Linked DNA regions of Homo sapiens: regions 2, 3 and 4 are each linked to region 1. Evidence: fine-mapped expression QTL. A gene starts in region 1. Each other region holds a variant in brackets. All regions are shown on one strand. Distances are from middle to middle.

The links. PIP is the estimated chance that this variant, and not a neighbour inherited with it, causes the effect.
Region 2: its variant is the best candidate, but not a certain one, in a credible set for the expression of LINC01948 in unexposed skin (GTEx, PIP 0.74).
Region 3: its variant is the best candidate, but not a certain one, in a credible set for the expression of LINC01948 in whole blood (INTERVAL, PIP 0.79).
Region 4: its variant is the best candidate, but not a certain one, in a credible set for the expression of LINC01948 in whole blood (INTERVAL, PIP 0.87).

The regions. Positions count from the first base shown.
Region 1 is chr5:56,479,151-56,484,500 of GRCh38, reverse strand. It overlaps LINC01948 (long intergenic non-protein coding RNA 1948), which reads left to right and starts at 2,732. Exons shown (of 5, transcript NR_104664.1): 1 at 2,732-2,948. RefSeq lists enhancers at 2,804-2,963, 4,164-4,333.
Region 2 is chr5:56,453,860-56,459,209 of GRCh38, reverse strand. LINC01948 (long intergenic non-protein coding RNA 1948) reads left to right here. Exons shown (of 5, transcript NR_104664.1): 5 at 1,267-1,415. Among named protein-coding and RNA genes, the nearest start is that of LINC01948, 25 kb to the left of the region's middle. The variant C/G (reference allele first, on the strand shown) is at 2,713.
Region 3 is chr5:56,422,973-56,428,322 of GRCh38, reverse strand. No RefSeq gene overlaps it. Among named protein-coding and RNA genes, the nearest start is that of LINC01948, 56 kb to the left of the region's middle. The variant A/G (reference allele first, on the strand shown) is at 2,401.
Region 4 is chr5:56,438,864-56,444,213 of GRCh38, reverse strand. No RefSeq gene overlaps it. Among named protein-coding and RNA genes, the nearest start is that of LINC01948, 40 kb to the left of the region's middle. The variant AG/G (reference allele first, on the strand shown) is at 2,601.

The sequences.
Region 1 (5,350 bases):
TCCTAATCACTTTCTTCAAACAGAACCGTGGTATTCTTGTGCATTTATTTATGGTAGTAATTGCCCACAATCTTGGTGTCTGATGTCCTATAGCAACTTGAAGGGGAGCGTGTGTCAGAACCCCTTTAGAGGAGCAGGGGCCGATCAGGTTTTCCAGGAGCACTTGCCATGGAAGCCAACAGGTTGGGCAAGGAAGTTACTGGAGTGTCTGGAAGAGCAGGACATTAAGGGAAAGCACAGGGGGTTGGAGCCAGGGAGGCTCCGCCATTAGATGGAGAGAGGCAGAGTGCAAGCAGGAAATAGAGCAAGCCATTAGGAGTCGGAGGCCAGGTCTGCAATCCTATAAGGCAAAGACAATGGGTTCCGCAAGAGGCATTGACCATGGATGGGGCTGGGTGGCCAGAGCTCATTATTCTTACGGGTTGTCCCATTGGCTGTGAGGACAGTCAGAATGGAAGAGGCAGAGTCTGGGCAGGCAAAGAACAGCCTTTCTCAATAGGTTTCGGAGATAGCTTATTAAATGTGTGTTCAGGGGATTTTTAAACTTCACCCAGATATCTTTTAAAATATATTGATATCAAGAATATATTATAAAACCTGAACCCTGGCAAATGCAAAGTCTCCCTCCTTTGAAAATAGTCACCATAGTTCATGTTCTGTCCTGTTTTTTTTTTTAAATATATAATTTCAACTTTTATTTTAGATTCAGGGGTACATGTGCAGATTTGTTACATGGGTATATTGTGTGATATACATGTGATGCTGAGGTCTGGGGTAAAATGATCCTGTTACCCAGGCAGTGAGCATAGTAGCCAATAGTTATTTTTCAACCCTTGCTTCCCTCTAGTATCCCCCAGTGTCTATTGTTGCCATCTTTATGTCTATGTGTACCTAATATGTAGCTCCCATATATAAGTGAGAACATGCACTGTTTGGTTTTTCTGCTCCTGCATTAATTTGCTTAGAATAGTGGCTTCCAGCTGCATCCATGTTGCTACAAAGGACATGATTTCCTTCTTTTTTATTGCTGCATAGTATTCCATGGTGTATATGTACCAGTCTTCCATTGACGGACACCTAGGCTGAGTCAATGTCTTTGCTATTGTGAATAATGCTGTGAAGCACATAAAAATGAATGTCTTTTTGGTAAAACGATTTCTTTTCATTTAGATATGTACCAGTAATGGGATTGCTGCTGGGTCGAATGGTAGTTTTGTTTTATTTGAGAAATCTCCAAACTACTTTCCCCAGTGGCTGAATTAATTTACATTCCCACCAGCAATGCCAGCAATGTATATGTGTTCCCTTTTCTCCACAGCCTTGCCAGCATCTGTTGTTTTTTTGACTTTTTAATAATAGTCATTCTGAGTGGTGTGAGATCTCATCGTGGTTTTGATTTGCATTTCTCTGATAATCAGCAATGCTGAGCATCTTTTCACATTTGTTGGCTGCTTGCATGTCTTCTTTTGAGAAGTGTCTGTTCATGTCTTTTGCCCACTTTTTAACAGGGTTGTTTGTGTTTGTGTTTTGCTTGCATAGCTGCTTTCCATGTTCTTTTCTATGTTATCTAGAACTATAATAAAAGTAACTGCCCAGCTCTTTGGGAGGCTGGGGCAGGCGAATCACTTGAGGTCAGGAGTTCAAGGGTAGCCTGGCCAATATGGTGAAACCCTGTCTCTATTAAAAATACAAAAATTAGCCGAGTGTGGTGGCACACACCTGGATTCCCAGCTACTCAGGAGGCTGAGGCAGGAGAATTACTTGAACCCCCAAGGCGGAGGTTGCAGTGAGCCCAGATCGCACCACTGTACTCCAGCCTGGGAGACAGAGTGAGACAGCGTCTCAAAAAAACAAAAAAAAAGGAACTAGGTCTAAGACAGGGTACCCAATCTATTTCTAAGAAGATGCTACTTCTCATTTTCTGGAAACACTGTAGCAAAGAGGAAGGGACAATAATGTCCCATAGTGGGTGGGCAGATATAAAAACCCCAAGATGTTCATTTCAGGCCCAAAGTGACTACTGCTTGCTACCCTCACCTTTCTCTGCTGGAACACTACCAGCCCCTGTGAGATGTGGGTGATCTCATGGGTGTTTGGAAGAATCCCAGTACCAGGCTAGGGGATCATCAAAGCTGACTGGATCAGTCCTGCTAGATCAGGAAGCCTTACTGAGTAAGGCTAATGCCAGGTCTCCAAACTGCCACTGAGCATCAGGGGTCCTTCCCACAATATCTTTGTTTCTCTAGGTCAAGAAATGATGCCGTCCCTAGAAACAGCGCAATGTTTATGTAAGAGTCAACTCAGAGACCTTGTGCCGGTACAAGAGGTACTATCTCATCCTGCTCCCCTGCAGGCACTAAATGAGACAAAATTCCTTCTGGAGTTCAAGTCCAGAAGGCTGACTATGCTGTTAATGGCAGTATACTGAGTTAAGAGAATTCGGGGAGACGGGAATATTGGGTCCACGATTCTGCCTGGAGGGAAGAATTGTGGTCTCCTCAGTCCTGTGGAGTAGGGGTCCGGGCTGATGATAGCGCCTCCTGGTGCAGAGTATACAAACAGCTGAAGATCTGCCTGGACCCCCTACCCCTCTCTTTTTTCCTTGTGGAAACTGTGTATAATTTGGAAAGAGCAAGGACATCCTGGCTCGCAGCTGGCCAGCTCCACCTGCGACCTGGACAGCCTCGCCCCTCCCTGCGGAGCCAGGCGAGTTCACAGGGCTGCCTCCGCTTCTTGCAGCATGTCTGCTCTCCTGGCCTGGCCTCTCCAGACCTTTCCCTCCACGGGCAGCGATTTCCAAGGCTCTCAAGACTCCAAACCACGTCGTTTTGGGAGTGAAAAAGTGAAAGCACACATCGTGTCATTAGAGCAGCAGGGACCAGCTGCTGGGTCAACACTTCCGAAAACAGCGCTTCCTGGGGAGCGACCGGAGCATCTCAGAATCTACGGTTTGACCTCCTGCCAATTCTCATGGTGTCTTTATACATTTTAACACAAAAATAAGATGTTTTCACTTGAGAGCGAGAGGGAAATGAACTGTTAAGGTGCTCTGTCGCCAGAGAAGTGAAGTTGGGGGGTAAATTTTAGGAACCCCCGACCCCCCTACCGAGGGAGGATGCGAAGTCGGCTCCTGAAACGCGAGCGAAACCCCCGCGCGCTTCCCGGGGTGACGCACATGTCTGTGTTTCTTTTTGCTTTTGACCAAAAGTCGTAGGGAGGGTCCTCCTCAGGGGACAGTCGCGGGCGCTGTGCCAGTCCTTCCTGTCCCCCCACCAAAGTCAACCCCAGCCCCAGGCCAAGGCCGCCCCGGCCGGAAGAGCCAGCTGGTGGGGGCCGTGGGGGGCGCGGCGGGCGCGCGGGGCTGGGGGCGGCGGGTCCGCCTACCCCGCCTTCCTGGCGTGGAGAGTTTCGGCCCCAGCCTCGCTGGCGTGGACTCTGCCTGAACCACGCCTGGGATGCTTTTGCCAAAGGAAACTTGGGGGGTGGGGGCGGGGCGGGCGACGATTCCCCCCCTCCCCACCCCGCCCCTGTCCTCCTCGGCCGGGAGCCGCGCTGGGCCGGGGTCAGCTGGCTGCCTTTGTGGCCGCTTCCCAGGAAGGAAGAAGCGTTGTCTGCAGATCAGTTGATCCGCGGGCTTTCCTGTGTCGGAATGCCGCCGTTTTCCGGGGACGGCTGCCACCCCCGTGATTCCCAGCCGGGGCTGCCGGCCGTGCGTAAGAGCCGGATAAATAGGCCATTGTGAGGCCGTTCAGATCTAGGTTTCTTATCACAGTATCCACCAGCGAGAAGCAGATTCGGCCCCTGATGGAGCTCATCCCAGCTTCTCTTTTCTTTCTCTGCACAGTTACAGCCATTTCTATTTTTTGCAGTTGTAAAGGGAATATTCAGAAAGCAATTTATTGTGTGCGACAGGGACTTAAGGGAGCGTGTCTGCAGACCGTGTTCCCACCGGGGTTGGGGTTCGCAACCTTGAGTTTAGCTCGATGGGCTTTGGTGTGTGAGGTTTCTACCCGCCCATCGCCCAAGGCAGGCACGTCCTTAAACACCAGCTGCAAGTATCAGGAGGGCAAGTCCGTAGGTCTCTAGATCCAGTGGGTTGGCTTTTTGGTGTTTGTTTTGTTTTGTGATAGCCTTGATCTGCTTTGTGGACACTGAAAATTTGAAGGTCGAGGGAACACGAGTTAAAACAGGTCAAATGAGGGAGGTTCTGAGGAAGGCTGGTGGTTTGGGAAGAGCTGATGCTGATGGTGTTGAGTGTCTGTTTTGTTTTTGTTTTTCTGCTGCAGCAGCCGCAGGGCTGTGGAGGGGTTGGGGTTTCCTGGTGTTTGACTTATTGGATAGTCATTGCTTGGCATGGCTGGGTTTTTGGGCCTGTGACCTGTGCTCAGAAGCCGACGTGTGCTTAGTTGGATGCTCTACTGACACCATGTTGACATGCTTAATAATTTTTGAAAAGGACCCTGCATTTTCAGTTTGAACTGCACCCGGCAAATTATGTAGCCAGGGCTGTTAGTAGACTCTCAAATTCATTTGAATAAGCTTGAATAACGGTTTGAATCAGTTCCCATTTGAGATAAGGGCCTGTGGTTAGTCGATAAGCTGCTGAAGGTGATTCTCTTAGTTTTCAGAGTATCTACTGTGGCTGTGCTGACGGATTAGAGCACGTTCCACAAACTAAACCAGGCTGCCTGGCATCGTGGGCATCTGCAGGGAGCGGCACCAGCCCCCTGCCAGAACAGAAGAGTGCAGCCAGGCAAGATTAGCTTCGTTCCGCCTGCTGAGACATCATCCTTTAGAAAGCATAGAATGTGCAGCCCTCAAAAACCTAGTGATTTCCTTAATAAGATGCTTATTTGTGCAGTTATTGCTTCTCTTTTCTTTTCCACTCTGAAATGCCTGGCTTCCAGGGTTGAAAGTGGATTCATCCTACCAAAAATATTCTATCGTTTTTGGGCACTGTGTTAATACTTCCAGCACCTGCTAAGGACTGAATGTTTGCATCCTCCCAAGATTCAGATATTGAAAATCTAACCTTCAATGTGATGGAATTTAGAGGGGGGTCTTTGGAGAGTAATTAGGTTTAGATGATGGCATGAGGGTGGGGCTCCGTGATGAGATTAGTCTCTATAAGAAGAGAAAGCAAAACTAGAGCCTTTTCTCCCTTCACCTGCATGAGGACGCAGCAAGAAGGTAGCTATCTGCAAGCCAGGACCAAGGCCCTCATCGGGAACAGAATCTGCTGGCACCTTGCTCCTGGACTTCCCAGCCTGCAGAACTGGGAGAAATAAATGTCTGTTGTTGAAGCCATCCAGCCTACAATATATATTCTGTTATAGCAGCCTGAGCTGAC
Region 2 (5,350 bases), 25 kb after region 1:
ATATGTTGGCTGGAATTCATGAGGTTCTGCAGAGGTCTGTGGTGGGCAGGGCTCACATGCTACTTCTTTCTCCACTGAGATATAAAGTGTGTTCTGAATTCTGAGCCATAGCTAACCCCATCCCTGGCACATAGTAAGTTCTTCATAAACATTTGCTGGATAAATGAAAGAAATAATGGAAGGACTGACTGGTGGAAAGATTGAAGTACAGAAAGAGGGAAGGAAGGAAGGGAAGGAGGGAAGGAGGGAAAGAAGAAGGAAGGAAGGAAGGAGGGAGGGAGGGAGGGAGGGAAAGAAGGAAGGAAGGAAGGAAAGAAGGCAGGTAGGCAGGCAGGCTAAGTGTAGATCAGACAACAGTTCCTGATGTGGGGACGTGCTTAAGAGAAACAGGTAGGATTGGAGTTCTAATACCTAACCTGTGTCTTTTATATAATATCTATACATCTAATATGTATTAGATGTTTTAAAAAGGTAAATTAAATATTCAGTGTGGTTCCTACCCTGGAGGATGTTTTCAGTAGTTTCTCCCAGGTGCAAAGGGAGGAGGCCTGTCTGAAACTCTGAGAAAAGGGCTTTGTGAATTGCAAAGCAGAAAACAAATGGTGATTAACTAAGGCTCCACAAGCAAGGGCAGGTCTCCGGAGAGCAGTCTCAAGAGATAACTCTTCTGCCTTCTTTTTGTCGTTTGAATCCTCAAAATTGTCCCTCGCTTAGACCAAATCAACCTCAAACAGTCTATGATTAAAATTTCCACTCTGAGAGTCTGAGCAACGTAGGAATTGTAGGAACTGGACCATCTGGAGATAATTTATAAATAACACTCGCCTTTCAAATGGGCTCTGTCTTCCCAAAGAGTCCTCTGTCCTGTTAGTAGGAGCTCTGCCAAGGCACAAACCACTAAATTGGGCCAGGGACACTGAAATTGCTGGCGGGAGCTTCTTATCTCTGATTCTTCTAAGAATTTGGGACGCTTCACTGAAACATTTGTTTTTCCTCATGTAAAATGTAAGCTGAAAGTTATGGGCTGTCTTTAGGTTGGGAAAAGCTTTTAGGATTTTACTGCATGGGACTCACTCAGCTTTTGCTTTGTCTACTGCTAAAATAATTGAAACGTGAATCAAATACTAAATATAACCCAAAATATCCTGGATACATAGTAAGCTTTGAGAGCATTAAAACATGACTAAGCCCTTTGCTCCTTTTTCAGTGAACCTGTTGACATGAAAGGGAGCCACTAATACCATCTTTTTCTCCCCTCTCCTCCAGGTCAGTCCTAAGCAGCACAACCTTAGCCACTGTGGAGCTAGTGCCAGCTGTGTGAATCTGTACAGTGGTGCAGTGTTAAGGGCAAAGAGCACTTTGGAGCCAAGGCAGACAAAACTGCGCAGAGCTCCCAGGCCTGGGTGATGATCCCTCTTCCCAGACATCTGAGGAGTTGCCATATTGATGTTCTCTCATTGTTTCGGCTGAGCTGGAATGATCGAAATAATTCTGGGACTATGACAAGTCTCACCAGACCTCGTTATGGATCAGGGAGAGGTGAACTTTAAAAATAATCAAGTTCAAAGGAGAGCCCTGTCACCTGTGATCAGTTTCGTTAGCAGAATCCCACCAGCCTTGCTCCCCATATCCAAAATGCACTCACCTCCCACAAGGCCCTTCCCTGCTCTTGGTTGGAGCCTCTGAGTTCAGACACATGCCTGAAGTTAGTTTCTCTGGACTGGGGAGCTTTCCCATTGCTTCCCAAGGACCTCCTAATGGCAAGTGATAAAACTGATTGGCAGGTGCGTGAGAGAGTCATAGTCAACTCATGGCATGAGAAACAGAAAGTTGATAAAGCAGAGCTTTTCTAGAGATTGAGCTGAAAACTTTTTATTTGGGAAATATACAACGTAGCAGAGAGCTGTGCTATTTAAAACGTAATGGGAGGTCGAGGTAGGCATATCACTTGAAGTCAAGAGTTCGAGACCAGCCTGGCCAACATGGTGAAACCACATCTCTACTAAAAAATATATACAACAATTAGCTGGGCATGGTGGCAGGCACCTGTAGTCCCAGCTACTCAGGAGGCTGAGGCAGGAGAATCGCTTGAACCCAGGAGGTGGAGGCTGCAGTGAGCCGAGATCGTGCCACTGTACTCCAGCCTAGGTGACAGAGTGAGACTCCGTCTCAAACAAAACAAAACAAAACAAAACAAAACAAAAATGTAATGGGCAGGCTATCTGCCTGGAGACAAAGTACATGCCCATTTCTGAGAACATTATTTGTCCTGGAAAGGTAGTTTCATAGTGGGATTCTTCTTCCCTGCTTCTTCCTGGGTCCCACAAGGTTGATCTTCCTCCATACCTTTCTTTTGTTCCCTAACATTTTACAGCATTGATTTTCTAACAAAAGGAAGGAAAGTTCCTAGGGAGGTATATCAACATTTCTAAAAGGAAATGTATGTATACTTTGAAAATACATATTTCACATTATAATAGAATTTCATAATTTAGAAATGAAAAGTACATCACTCTAATTATATTTCTCTTGATGAAAGTAAAATTTGACAAGTTATCTCTGCTGACAAGAATCTGCATCAGTGAATCTGCAAAGAGGGCACCAGTTAGGGGTGGGGCCTCATCTTCCTAGATGGCTCAGGTCTAGAGCCTGTTGGCTGGTCAGACATAACATTTTTATGTTTATCAAATAGGAAAATGATTTTTTAAGGAC[C/G]ATCTGGGCACAGGTAACAGGAGATGCTTGTATCTCTCCTGTAGGGTCAGTCTTCAGGAGACGGAGCTGAGACAGGAGTCCTACTGGCAAGGTAGGAGCAGCACACTAGGGCTTTATGGTCCAGGATGCTTAAGAGAAAGAGAAATGTACGTGAAGACAGCCTGGCATCCACTACACAGGCCCTGCCTTCACCGTGTGGATGTAGTTGCCCTGAGAGTGGACAGAGAAAGAAGAATGAGAGCAGTGAGTCAGCGAAGGGCCTCAGAATGGGGATCTCAGGACCTTCAGAGCTGGCAGCCATGTGGCTGCCTCAGGACACAGTCATGCAGCACGTGGTGTCTGAGGGGTAGACAGTGATTACCTCCTAATCTCCCACAGATGGTGCCCTGGGCAGGGGTGGGGATGAGGACCCACCCAAGCAGGCACCTAGAAGAATTTGATCCTGGAACTCTTAGCAGGGAGGCAGTTCTGTGTAGGCAACTTCATGGCATCACCTCTGCAGGGCCTTGTGACCCTACCCAGGGTTATTAGTCCCACATTCTTCAAGAGCAATGGCTGGAGAATGGCAAGAGTTGAATGGGAGTGGGGACACAGAGACATTGTTAGGACTATAGCAAGACAGATCTAATGCATGAGTCTTACAGTGAAAAGAAAAGAAAGCCCAGTGAGCAGTGCCAAATGCCACAGAATCAAGTGCCTCCCTGCTGAAGATGGGACAAGTGAGGACAACCAGGGCACTGTTTTGGTGGAGGAGCTGGAAGGACCCTGGGTTGGTGAAAGAACATGACCTTAGCAGAGGCCCATCACGTTAGGAAGGGGCACCAAGCTGCAGAACAGCAGGATGGGCACAGCTGGCACAAAGCCCATCCCAAGGCACAGAGAGAGAAGGAGGGACTTGGGGCGTTGCAGTCCAGTGAGTTCCCACTAGGGAACTCAGCACTTAAGACTCCTAGAGTATGGTCTCTCAGGCTGATGGACAGGAAGCCTGGAGATGGGGCTAAGTATGTGGAACAGGGACAGAAACCTCAAGGGTTCCCGAGAAACTGGGACAGGCCGGACAAGGCAAGATGCTCCCCACTTGTAGGTCCAACAAGAAGCACGTTCTTCCAAAGATTTAGGGTGTTGTGAAGGTGGCAGAGGGCAAGCAGAATACTCCATTTTAAAGAACACTCAGCCATATATTAGCAGAAGTGCAAATCAATCTTTTGGAAACAGCATCCCACCTTCCTCGGACATTGATATTTAAGGCAGGGACTGCTATGACATTAGCCAGACTATCCACACACCAAACCAGGCTGTCCCCGAGGCTCTGATTCACAGCTATTTACCAACACCCTGAATGTGTTATCTGAAACAGCAATCAGGAGAGAAGGCTACACGAAAATCTAGACAGGTCGCACCTTCTTCAACGTTTTGAATTGCAAAGTAAGAGGTGACACCAGCCCAGGGAGGTGTTGTGACCGTGGAAGGAGAAAGAATGAGCAATAATCTCTGGCACACCTCTGGGCAAAACGCTAAGCAGCACAAAAAGTGCGAGAGCATAGGACACATGGAGAAGAGAAGGTATGGAGCAGAAATGGCATTTCACTGGGAACTGGGATAAATAGGATCTTTCTTCACTCTAACTAGCTTGGTACATTTGGGAAAGTGATTTAATGTCCCTGAGACCTGGCTTCTTCCCTTGTAGAACATGAGAGTTGATGCAGGTGTTCCTTGGGATCCTCCTCATCCTAGTATTCTGTGAACGTGGGGGTCTGGGTAGTTCACAGACTGGGACACCCTCTCCCAGATTTTCCAGAGTAAATATTACTCCCCTGATGCAGCCTCAGCCAATAGCATGATCCTTCCCATCTCAGGAAATGTGTCCAATCAGAAAACATAGAGGGTGGATCCATCGGTGAGAGATCTTGCCGAGCGGTGTCAAGACTTCCCCGTGGCCCTATGTTTACCATGCATTCGATTCTCGGTGTGGTCCGGGCCTTTCTCACCTCATCCATTTCACCTACCAAGAAAGGAAATGACATTCATCCGGGCTGGGGCACTATTGCGCAACAAAACAAGCCAACCTGTAATTAAGGAGAACTGAACGCTGATGCTGAGCCCAGCATCTTGGGGAAAGACTGCTGAGAGTTTCGCTTGGCTTTGGAATTCATTTATCAGATAACATGCGCTGGATTGACCTAAACTGCAACATGGCCCTTGTAATTATACCGTGCTTTTGCTTTGGAGCCTGAGGGAAATGTGGAAGGCGCTGGAGTCTGAGCTCTGGGTCACCTGAACGTCCTGTGATTATGCCCGGTCTCACATTCAAAAGGAGAGATGGGAGTGTTTGTATTTTACCCACAGCAGCAGACTCAGCTCTAGGATATGTGGGGTGCATGTGTCTTCTGTCTCTCCTGGAACTCAGTATCTGTTCATTCATTCATTGAGTACCTACTGTGATCAAGGCACTGGATGGGGCACTATGACAATTTCTCTTTTGGTATTTTTTCAAGATTTGTTTACTTGATCTTCTAGCCCAGGGGTCAGCAAACCACAGGCCATGGGCTAGATCCAGGCCTTTGCCTGTTTCTGTGCAGCCTCAATAGTTAAGAATTTTTACATTTTTAAATGATTAAGAAGGAAATCAAAAGAAGAA
Region 3 (5,350 bases), 56 kb after region 1:
TATCCAGATGTGCAGAGATTTTCCCACAATTTCCATTTCTTTTATAGCTCTAGGAACATAAATGTTAGAAAGACAGTTGAACTACAGTAATTTGGGAATCTACTAATCAATTCAAATGTGATCATTTGGAACACTGGGTTATACAAAGTATTATCATATGGCAGAAGAATAGGGGAAATCCACTGCCTTTTTGATTTGCTTGGGTAGGGGGAGAAGTGCAGGAATTCAAGATTTAATGTCTGGCTTAGAATTTGACCCAAGACCTGTGAGGCCATTGAGGAAAATCTATTTTTTGCTAGTTCCATGTGTTGCTAAAAGTGTAGAAGGAAATAATATGGTTCTGTGCAAGCATGTAACAAAGGAACCTGACCTAGGTGCAGGCCATCAGAAAGGCTTCCAAGAAGAAGGGGTAACTGAGATGACAGCTAAAGGAAGTATAGGAATTAAGTACATAATAGATGGAGGGAAGGGGAAGGAGAGTGTTGCAGGCAACATGTGCAAAAGTCCTGGGGTGGGAGAAGGCAGAGGGCTTCTCTAGGAACTACCAAAGGCCCGGGTGGCTGCAGGGCCTGGACCGAGGACAGACAAGTAGGAGATGAGCTTTCAGAGGAGAGCAGAGATTCAACCATGTAGGGCCTTGGAGGCCATGTCGAGTGAAGCAGAGGACCAGAGTGATGGGAGAATGGTCTCTTTTCTGGAAGTGGGTTCAGCAGACCTAGACCAAGAAGACAGAAAATCAGTAAGAGGCTCCCCTTGATGGTGTTTGGCCAGTGGATTCTCAGGGTAGTTCTAGGCCTGAATCCTGATTTTGAGTTGTTTCCTGGATGCTGGGAAACAGTTCCCCTCCGGCACACCCCAGCCTTCAGTAAGGCTGTGCTGTTGGCCACTACAGCTGAGATCACTTTGAGCTGCAAGGCAGGCCAAGTAATGAAACATTTGGGGTGACCAAAGAGCCAGGGAGGAGCTGGAGCAAGGAGTATGAGATGTCAACTAGAATATCTTCCGGATGGAGTACAGATGTAACTGGGAGATACCTGAATGTGCAGTCAGTGCCAAGTGGAGGCCTAGGTAGGTTTATTTGGTTATTGGGAAAAGGAGTGGCACCAGAAAATTGGAGGACTAGAGGACAGTTGGGTGAGAGCAGTTTAGTTTCTTTGATTCTGTGCTAACTTTTTTGGATATTTGCTGGAAAATGCAATTTATAGAGGCTATTTGCTCTTGGCTATGGAATGCATTTGCTGTTTCTTCTCTTTTATACGTAAGATACATCTGTGAGACCCTCTACAGGAGATGAATTCCTGGTGTAAAAGAGTCATGTGAATATTGTGGAGTAATTATTCTGAGCCAGGGGAGCAGGCTAATTAGCCTTCTGGGAATGTCCCAGTTATAGCACTAACAGCTGGCTTGGTGTGCATATTAGCTGTAAAATGTCTCCAGAGGGAGCTGGTGACTGATGCCCCCAGAGGAAAAAAGCATGCGGAATCAGAAAATGCTGGCGTTGGATGAAACCTTGGAACCATGAGGACAACCTCCCCACTGGCAGCTGAGGACAATAAAGCCAAGAGAGATTTGTGTTTGAGTGAAGGTCGCAGCCAGTCAGTGGCTGAAGAGGGACAAGAGCCCTAGTTCTTTGAGTCTTTGTCTCCAGTCTTTTTATCAGGTAACTGCACAGCATCTCATCAATCCCCTCACCACCTAGACCTCCTTCGTCCAACAACCTCTTCAAACCTGCAGCTTTCGGGGTCTTCATTTCCTCTCCTAAAGAACGTAACAAGAACACTAAAAGTTGAACAACCTTGTGAAGCACAGAAAGAGAGGAACTACAAATGGAAAAAAAAAATCAAAGTGAGTTGAGGTTGCTATAAACTAACTTGGGCTCTGAATGAAATAAATTGCAATTTTAATTTTTTCCTTGGCTCATTTTCTCCACTTATTTTAGTGTTATTATCTTTTGCTTGGTTAACTGCATTTTTGTAAGACATCTCAAACTTTTATGAAGCAAAGTTGAGTGGACAAATATGAAATACAAAACTACATCTGTGGACATGGAGCAAGAAGAAATATAGAAGAGGAATATAGTTCCCGTCTGCCTGGAAGCTGGGTATAGGCACCATTGACATCACTCTTGGGGTCAAAGATCGATGCTGGGAATTTTGGTTTACTTCTTGTTTCCCACTTTCTTGCCATTTACATGGCACAGAATCTCCTTTCAAGTCCCACATTTTCTAGGCCAGACCAGTTATGTTGCTTTGTGTATGTGTGTGTGTGTGTGTGTGTGTGTGTGTGTGTGTATGTGTATACACTCTCTATACACTTTAAAACTTGGGACTACTTAAGAGTTCAAGACAAATAACCAAAGGAGTGGAACGAAGATCTCAGAGGGAGTGAGAGAGAAAGTAC[A/G]TAGAGTGTATGGGGGAACTTGATATATGAAAACAATGCTAATACAAATCAATAGGGAAAGGACAGACTGTTTAGTAGTGGTGTTAGGAAATCGGAGTCACTATATTTAAAAAAGCAAAACAAAATTCATACTTTATACCAATGCAAAGGAAAACTCTAAGTGGACCAAAGACCTAAATGTGAAGGTAAAACTATACAGCTAGTAAAAAAAAATGTAGACGAATATAATTGAGAATGGGGTAGAGCATTGTAAAAAGACCCAAAACCCGCAACAATGATGGACAGAGATAGATGACAGATTAGGAAAAGAATTACCCTCATGAACAAAATATTTTTATGACTTAATTGACAAAGGGTTTATACAGGGAGTATGAAAGGATTTCTGCAAATCAATAAGAAAAAGACAAAAATGCAAGACAATAATGGTCAAGATATAAAAAGACAAGTCACAGAAGAGAAAACCCAATTGCTAACATATATATGAAGATATGACAAATAAATAGTAAGTGGAGAAATACATATTAAAGCAGCAATGACATATGCTTTATTCTCATCAAATTCATAAAATTAGAAATGTAATAATGTCAAATTTTTTGGAAGGCAGGCAGTGTATGAGGAAACGAAGTCTTGTGTGCCACTGGTGGGAATGCAGTGTGGACATTCTGGGGAACAAGGTGGCAGTGCCTAGTCAACTACTGTGCATAAATCTTACTTTGTACAGTAAAATAACCCTTGAAACATTATCACAAAGGTCCAGAAAAGTACGAGTATGCATGCATATCATTGTGTCGCTTTCTTGGCAGTGGGGAATTGGAGGCAAATTAGGAGTCCACAGCCAGAGAAATTGTGTAGCAAAATAACGTGAAATATAGAATTTGATACAAACTAATATTAAAAACATAATGATGGGTAAAAAAAATAAGAGAAAGAACAAAGTTTTTCTTAGCACAATACGGTGTATGTAAAGTAAAAATACATACATGCAAAAATAGCAGATAATTTGTAAGGAAAAGCACAATTTCAAAGATAGATATCAAACATTCAGGGTGTAGCCTAACATGAGGATGGGGCTAGGGATGGGGGTAGTTATTCAGGATGACCTGGAATACATTTCAAAATGAAACAAGTGGCCAAGCTCAGTGGCTTACACCTGTAATCCCGGCACTTTGGTAGGCCAAGGCAGGTGGATCACCTGAGGTCAGAAGTTCAAGACCAGCCTGACCAATATGGTGAAACCCTATCTCTACTAAAAATACAAAAATTAGCGGGGTGCGATGGTGGGCACCTGTAATCCCAGCTATTTGGGAGGCTGAGGCAGGAGAATTGCTTGAACCCTGGAGGCGGAAGCTGCAGTGAGCCAAGATTGTGCATCTGTACTCCAATCTGGGCAACAGAGCGAGACTCCATCTCAAAACAGAAAAAATAAATAAATAAATAAGAAACAAGAGCAGGCCATGGCATGAGTGATGGTGATACATCATGAAATTAAACTGATGATTCAATTAGCCCTCTGTAACTGAGGTCCAACACAAATATAGAAAATAAAGTAAAGTAAAATAAAATAAAACCATCAAAGGATCTTAAATGTTCCTTCTAATTCTAAGAACTGCAGAAAAATAAACATTTGATGTTAGGTTCATTGGAGACCCCTTTTTCCTCTCTGGTTGTTTGCTTTCTTATTAGTAAAAAAAATTTTAATTAGGGAGGCATGAGTGCTAGATATCTTCCAATATTGTTTACTCCTTCTTCTATAGTGAAAGTAGCCTTTATTATAACTAGACATGGCTATCTGGAATAAAGATGACATTGTTTAAGACTCCCTTGCAGCTAGGAGTGGCCACTAAGTTCTGCTCAATGGGTTTGAGGAGAAACAAGGTGTTTCTCCTCTGAAACATCGTTAATGGTAGAAGCATAAACTTTCTCCCTCTTCCTGCATCCTGCCAGCTGCAATGTTGGCTATGGTAGCCAGCCACTTTGGAATATGTGATTCATTCTGTCAGTTGGCAAGAATTTGGTACTTAAATGGAAGCAAAAACAAAAACACAAAGCAAGAAAAGCAAGAAAACTGCCATGTATTGGCCGGGCACAGTGGCTGATGCTTGTAATCCCAGGACTTTGGGAGGCCAAGCCATTCAGATCACTTGAGGCCTGGAGTTCGAGACCAGCCTGGCCAACATGGCAAAACCCTATCTCTAGTAAAAATACAAAAATTACTCAGGGTGATGGTGCACACCTGTAGTCCTGGCTACTTGGAAGACTGAGGCAGGAGAATTGCTTGAGCCCGGTAGGTGGAGGCTGCAGTGAGCAGAGATAGGCCACTGCAGACTCTGTCTCAGAAAAGAAAAATGCCATCCATGTATTATTGAGCCATATGAAACTGACATTTTTGTTTTTGTTTTCTTTTTGATTTCTCAGAAGATGAAACTGACATTTTTATGTCAACAATGACCAAATATCAGCAATTTCATATGGGTTAATCTAATATACAGATTCCTTTGCAATAAGTATTAAAACACTCACTTTTCTCCCCTCATTCTGGGAAAAAGGATGGCTAGCCTGGGAGCTTCTTGAGATCATAGACCCCCTCTTTTTCAAACATTTTTAGGGTTCTTCTAAAACTTCTTTTTAAACTAGTGATATTAGATACATAAACAATGACACCCTAAGAGGGTGTCCCTCCGAAGCAGTCCCTGAGACAGGATTCAAGTACGGGTAGTTTGGGGAGGTGATCCCAGGAAATGTTTATAAGGGCATGGAGAAGTGAGCTGGTGAAGGCAAGGCAGCCAGTATACAGGGATTACTACTTAGCAAATTCCAATTGTTGGCAAGAGGAGCTTACCCCACTGGGGAGCTCTGGGAGCCAGTGTAGAGCATTGCTGGTCTTTCCACCTGAGGAGCCAGGGAGCTGGAGGGAGCTGGAGCAGTCATTGCTGCAAGGTGCTGGCATGGG
Region 4 (5,350 bases), 40 kb after region 1:
ACTTTCTGAGTTGTTACTGGAGACACAGCCTGCCACCACAGAAACTGAACACTTAAGCCACTTACTCTCCTATCAACTTTTATAGCTAGGATAGAAGAACATGGCCTGGGCTCAACCAATCAGACTCTCAAGCTCTGGACTATGAAGAGAGAGCTGGTGTCAAGAAATGAAGGAAACCATTCTTGTTATGGGTGGCAACAGCTGGGGTGGTAAGAACCAATTTCTGGAGCCAAGAGAGGCTTCCAGGCAACTTGTGGCAGCCAGTAGCCTGCAACTGATGCAGAGCTGCTGGGAAGCATGATCGTGGCTATGTGTCTAGCTACTGCCTCGTCCCTTGTTCTTGCTTGTTGTGATTCTGTTTCTCCATTGCTCTTTTCAATTTTGTGAGTTTTCCAATTACCTTTCTGACATAAGCATTTAATGCTACATATTTTCTTCTAATTACAGCTTTAGCTGTACTACAAATTTTGACCTTTTGAATCTTTATTTTTATCCAATTCAAGATGTTTTCCAATTTCTCTTGTGAATTCCTATTTGACCCATGGGTTACTTAGAATATGTTGTTTAATATCCAAATATTAGGGGATTTTAAAAATCTTTTTCTGTTATTGATTTCTTCTTTAACCCTATCATGGTCAGAGGGCATACCTTGGAAGATTTAAATTCTTTTAATATTTTTGAGGTACCACTGTTGCTGAGTAAAGCGCTCTCTAAATGTCAATTAGGTCAAGTTGGTTGACAGTGCTGTTTAGGTTATCTACATTCTTAGTAATTTCCTGTCTATTTTTTCTATTTGATTACTGAGAGAGAAGTGCTAAAGACTCCAACTATAACTGGATTTGTCTATTTACTCTTTCAATTCTGTCAATTTTTGTTTCATGTATTTTGAAGCTACTTTGTTTGACGCATACGCATTTAGGATTATTATGTCTTCTTTATGAATTGACCTCTTTATTATAATCTAATACCCATTCATCCCCGGTAATAATTTCTTGTTCTTAAGTCCGGTTTGTTATTAAGCACTTTGATTTTCTTTTTGTTAGTGTTAGACTACTGTTTGTTTCTCTCCTTTTACTTTTAAACTATCTATGTCTTTAGATATAAAGTGGGTTTCTTGTAGGTAGGATAGAGTCGAGTCTTGCTATTTTCTTTTAATCCCATCTGACAATCTATGTTTTCTAATAAAGTGTTTAGAACATTTACAGTTAATGTGATTATTGATATAGTTAAATTAAAATCCACCATTTTTGTCTGCCTGCTTTTAGATTTATGATTCCGCTTGATCCTGACTTTGTAATTTTTTTCTGTAGGAATTTATTACCAATTCAGATAAATAGATATATAATGGATTGAATGTTTGTGTACCCTCAAAATACATATGTGAAACCCAAACCCCTAATATGATGGTATTTGAAGATAGGGTCTTTGGGAAGTAATTTGGTTTAAATGAAGTTGGGCCCTCTCCGTGATGGGATTAGTGTCCTTATAAGAAGAGGAAGATAAGCCAGAGCCTTCTCTCTCTTCACCATGTGAGGAAACAGCAAAAAGGTGGCCATCTGCAAGTAAGGAAGACGGCCCTCACCAGGAACCAAATCTGCAGGCATCTTGATCTTGGACTTACCAGTCTCCAAAACTGTGAGAAATGAATGTCTGTTGTTTAAGCCACCTGGTCTGTGATACTTCGTTATGGCAGCTCAAGCTAAGACAGTTAGATAGATAGTTTTTATTGTTGCTTTTAAAAAGCAAGTGTTACCCTTTAACCCATAAATTTCATTTCTTCATGTCTATTCCATAGAAAACATTGGCACATGTGCTTAAAAAGATAAGTACAACAAATTTCATCACACTATTGCTTGTAATCATAAAAAATTGAAAATAATCTAAATTTTCATCATTTGGGAAATAATTAAATAAATTTCCATATATCCATTCTATGAAAGATTATACTTCTCTTAAAGCAAATAAGATCAATGAATACATACTGATATGAAGAAAATATGCAACACATATTTAAGTTAGAAAAGCTAGTCATAGTAAAATATGTACCATATAAACAATTTATATATTAAACAAAAATTCCCACCAAATAAATATGTGCATTCCTATATGCAAATAGACATATATGAATGTAAATACTTAGAAAACGCCTGGAGATATGTGCAGTGGAGGGATAATAATGATATACAATGAAGAACAGTGTCAGATTAGGGGAATAGGTAAAGAGAAGTTCTGTTTATCTATATTGTTTTCATATTTATCAATGAAAATCTATTACTTGGGTAACTAAAAATTGAGTTGTGATTAATATTATAGTTTGAAAAGAAGAAAAAAAGACATATATATATAGTAAATTAAAAAATCAGGATTTTTTTTTCTCTTTGACATTTTATTCATCCCACTGGAGTAGGAGATTTGGGTATGGAGAATCAAAAGATTTCTTGATTCTTTGGCTCAATAAAAGACCTTTTCTGCCTTTCATTCTACAACAGCAGTAACTAAAAGCATGGTGAGTGTCCCGGGAGTACACAGTGTGTCTGGGGTGTGTCCTAGTGTGTTCGGTTATGCTCATTCATGCTGAGACATTGCTTTTTGCCCATAAA[AG/G]GAGGAATTACAACATCAGACCTGGATTGTTTTCATTTCCAAACAGCCACAAAATGTCAACACAAGACTGTCAATCTCTTGTTCTCTCCTCTCTCACAAACACTCCCTGGAACCCAGGCCAATTGAAGAAAACAGATGCAGGCAGGCACTGTTTTGACAACACTGGAAATGCCTGTGGAAGAGTAAAAATGATTAATATGCTCCTAAAAGAATAGGGAGTGCGCCTTCGGGAGAGATAATTGGATGGGCATCCCTGCTGGTAGATACCCTCTCATACCCAAACGAAGGCACACATTCTCACACAGGTTTCTTCCGAGCAACCCCTTGCTGAGTGTTTCCTGTAACATTTTCATCATGGCAAGGCAGGTGGGGTGAAAGGTTCTTGGAGGATGGGGGAAAGGCTGGAGGATAGCAAAAGTGCCATAATCTCCCTTCAGCCATAAAATGAATAATCTTCAAACAAGCAATAAAATGGATCTTGGTATCTTTTAAAACCAACAAAGAGTTCTCTGAGTTTAGAGGTATTTCATGGGATGTGGTAGTAGACAATGCAATTGCTCATTCTTAATTTATGAGACAGAAAATCTTTGTTTAGCTATCACATGTAAATTAAGGTTGTCTTTGAGTAACTTGAATTACATAACCATCTATGTGCCAAGCAGCTGTCGTTTTCCTATAAGTATATTCTCAGTTGTAAGGAGTCTGGGGGCCAGGCTACCCCCTTATGTTGTGGTGGGGGAAAGAACTTTGGGACTCGGCATCAGAAAAGTCAGCTCTGTTCCTCCTTAGCAGAGTGGTCTTTGATAGGACACTAAACCTCCTTGGACATCAGGCATCTTCATCTGTACTGCAGGGATCTGGATTAGATGAGTAGCCTTCAAGCTGTGGGTAGTTCTAGAGCAGGCTCTAGACTGTGGAACTCTGGGCCCCACCTCCACTTAAAAACTTTAACCAGAGCATCTCTGATATGATCTGTTTAATATTGGAGGTTTGAATAAATGCTTTAAAAAACAAAATTATTCAACACTCATTTTTTCAATAAATACTTACTGAGCTACTACTATGTAACTGGCAGGGGGACTCATCAATGATGGAATGAAGATACCTCCTGCTCTCATGAAGCTCACACCTTACCATTCCACTGGACCAGATGAACTTTAAGGGTCCTTTCCAGACCCAGCATCCTGCTCTTCCATAACACATAAAACAGGTGTCCTGAAGCATTGCCCAGAGAACTTAAAGTTCAACTGTAACTACACAAGGACAGACAGACCAAAAGAGACCTTAAGAGTGATGTGCATTGGAGTTAAGTTGACAAAGTGAACATTTTGGCTCTACTAGTTAGCTAGGTGACGTAACTCAAATTAATTAACCTCCTGTGCCTCAGTTTCTTTATCTATAAAATGAGGGTAATGATAGTACCTACCTCATAAGGTTGTGGTGAGGATAAAAAGACATAATGCATGCAAAGGCTTAGGGCTATGCCTAGAATTCTATAAGTTACGTTAGGTCTTATTAGCTATTATAATGTGCTTTTCCAGGCTTATATCAAGATAAAGTACACTTGAAAAGGTCCTACAAGATGGCCTAATATAGAGCAGAATTCAGCATAAGGTAACACTAACCTGGACTTCCAAGGACCTTCATAATCACTGCCAGCTGTAATATGGCCCGCAAGTGAATCCAAGGGCAAGGTTCAATTAATGTTTCATGTGCACCTAGCACAACACTTACTGTAGGGAAGGCAATCAATAAATATTTATGGAATCAATGAACCTATTCCTCTAATAGCATTTAAAGCTCTGTGGATCGTTTTAGGTTTCATTTAGGGCAATCACTGCCTGAATGCCACCTTTTTCTAAATTGTATTTTTACTTATAAAATATTTCAAACATACAGACAATAAGTTAACAGACACCTATGTACTCACCATCAAGATTACATAAATGCTACCTCAATATATTGACTAATTAGTTTCAGATAGTCTTTTAAGAAATACAATTACAGTCATGCACTACATAATGTTTTGGTCAACAACAGACCACATATATCACCTTGGTCCCATAAGATTATAATACCATATTTTTACTGTACCTTTTCTATGTGTAAATATGTTTAGATACACAAACACTTACCATTTTGTTACAATTGCCCAGTGTTCAGCACAGTATCATGCTGCACAGGTTTGTAGCCTAAGAGAAATAGGCGGTATCTTATAGCCTTGATGTGTCATAGGCTATACTTCTAGGCTTGTGGAAGTACACTCTGCAATGGCCACCCAACAACGAAATCACCTAATGACGCACTTCTCAGAAAGTGTCCCCATTGTGGCCGTGCGCAGTGACTCACACCTGTAATCCCAGAACCCTGGGAGGCCGAGGTGGGCAGATCACCTGAGGTCAGGAGTTCAAGACCAGCGTGGCCAACATGGTGAAACCGTGTCTCTATTAAAATACAAAAATTAGCTGGGCATGATGGCAGGTCCCTGTAATCCCAGCCACTCAGGAGGCCAAGGCAGGAGAATCGCTTGAACCTGGGAGGCGGAGGTTGCAGTGAGCTGAGATCACGCCACTGCACTCCAGCCTGGGCGACAGAGCGAAACTCCATCACGAAAAAAAAAAAAAAGAAAGAAAGAAAGAAGATATCCCCATTGTTAAGCGATGTATGGCTGTATTTAGAGGCCACCAGAACCCCATTCACACTCTCTTCTCTTTGCCAAGATAATCCCTACCTTTAAGTAGATGGGTAT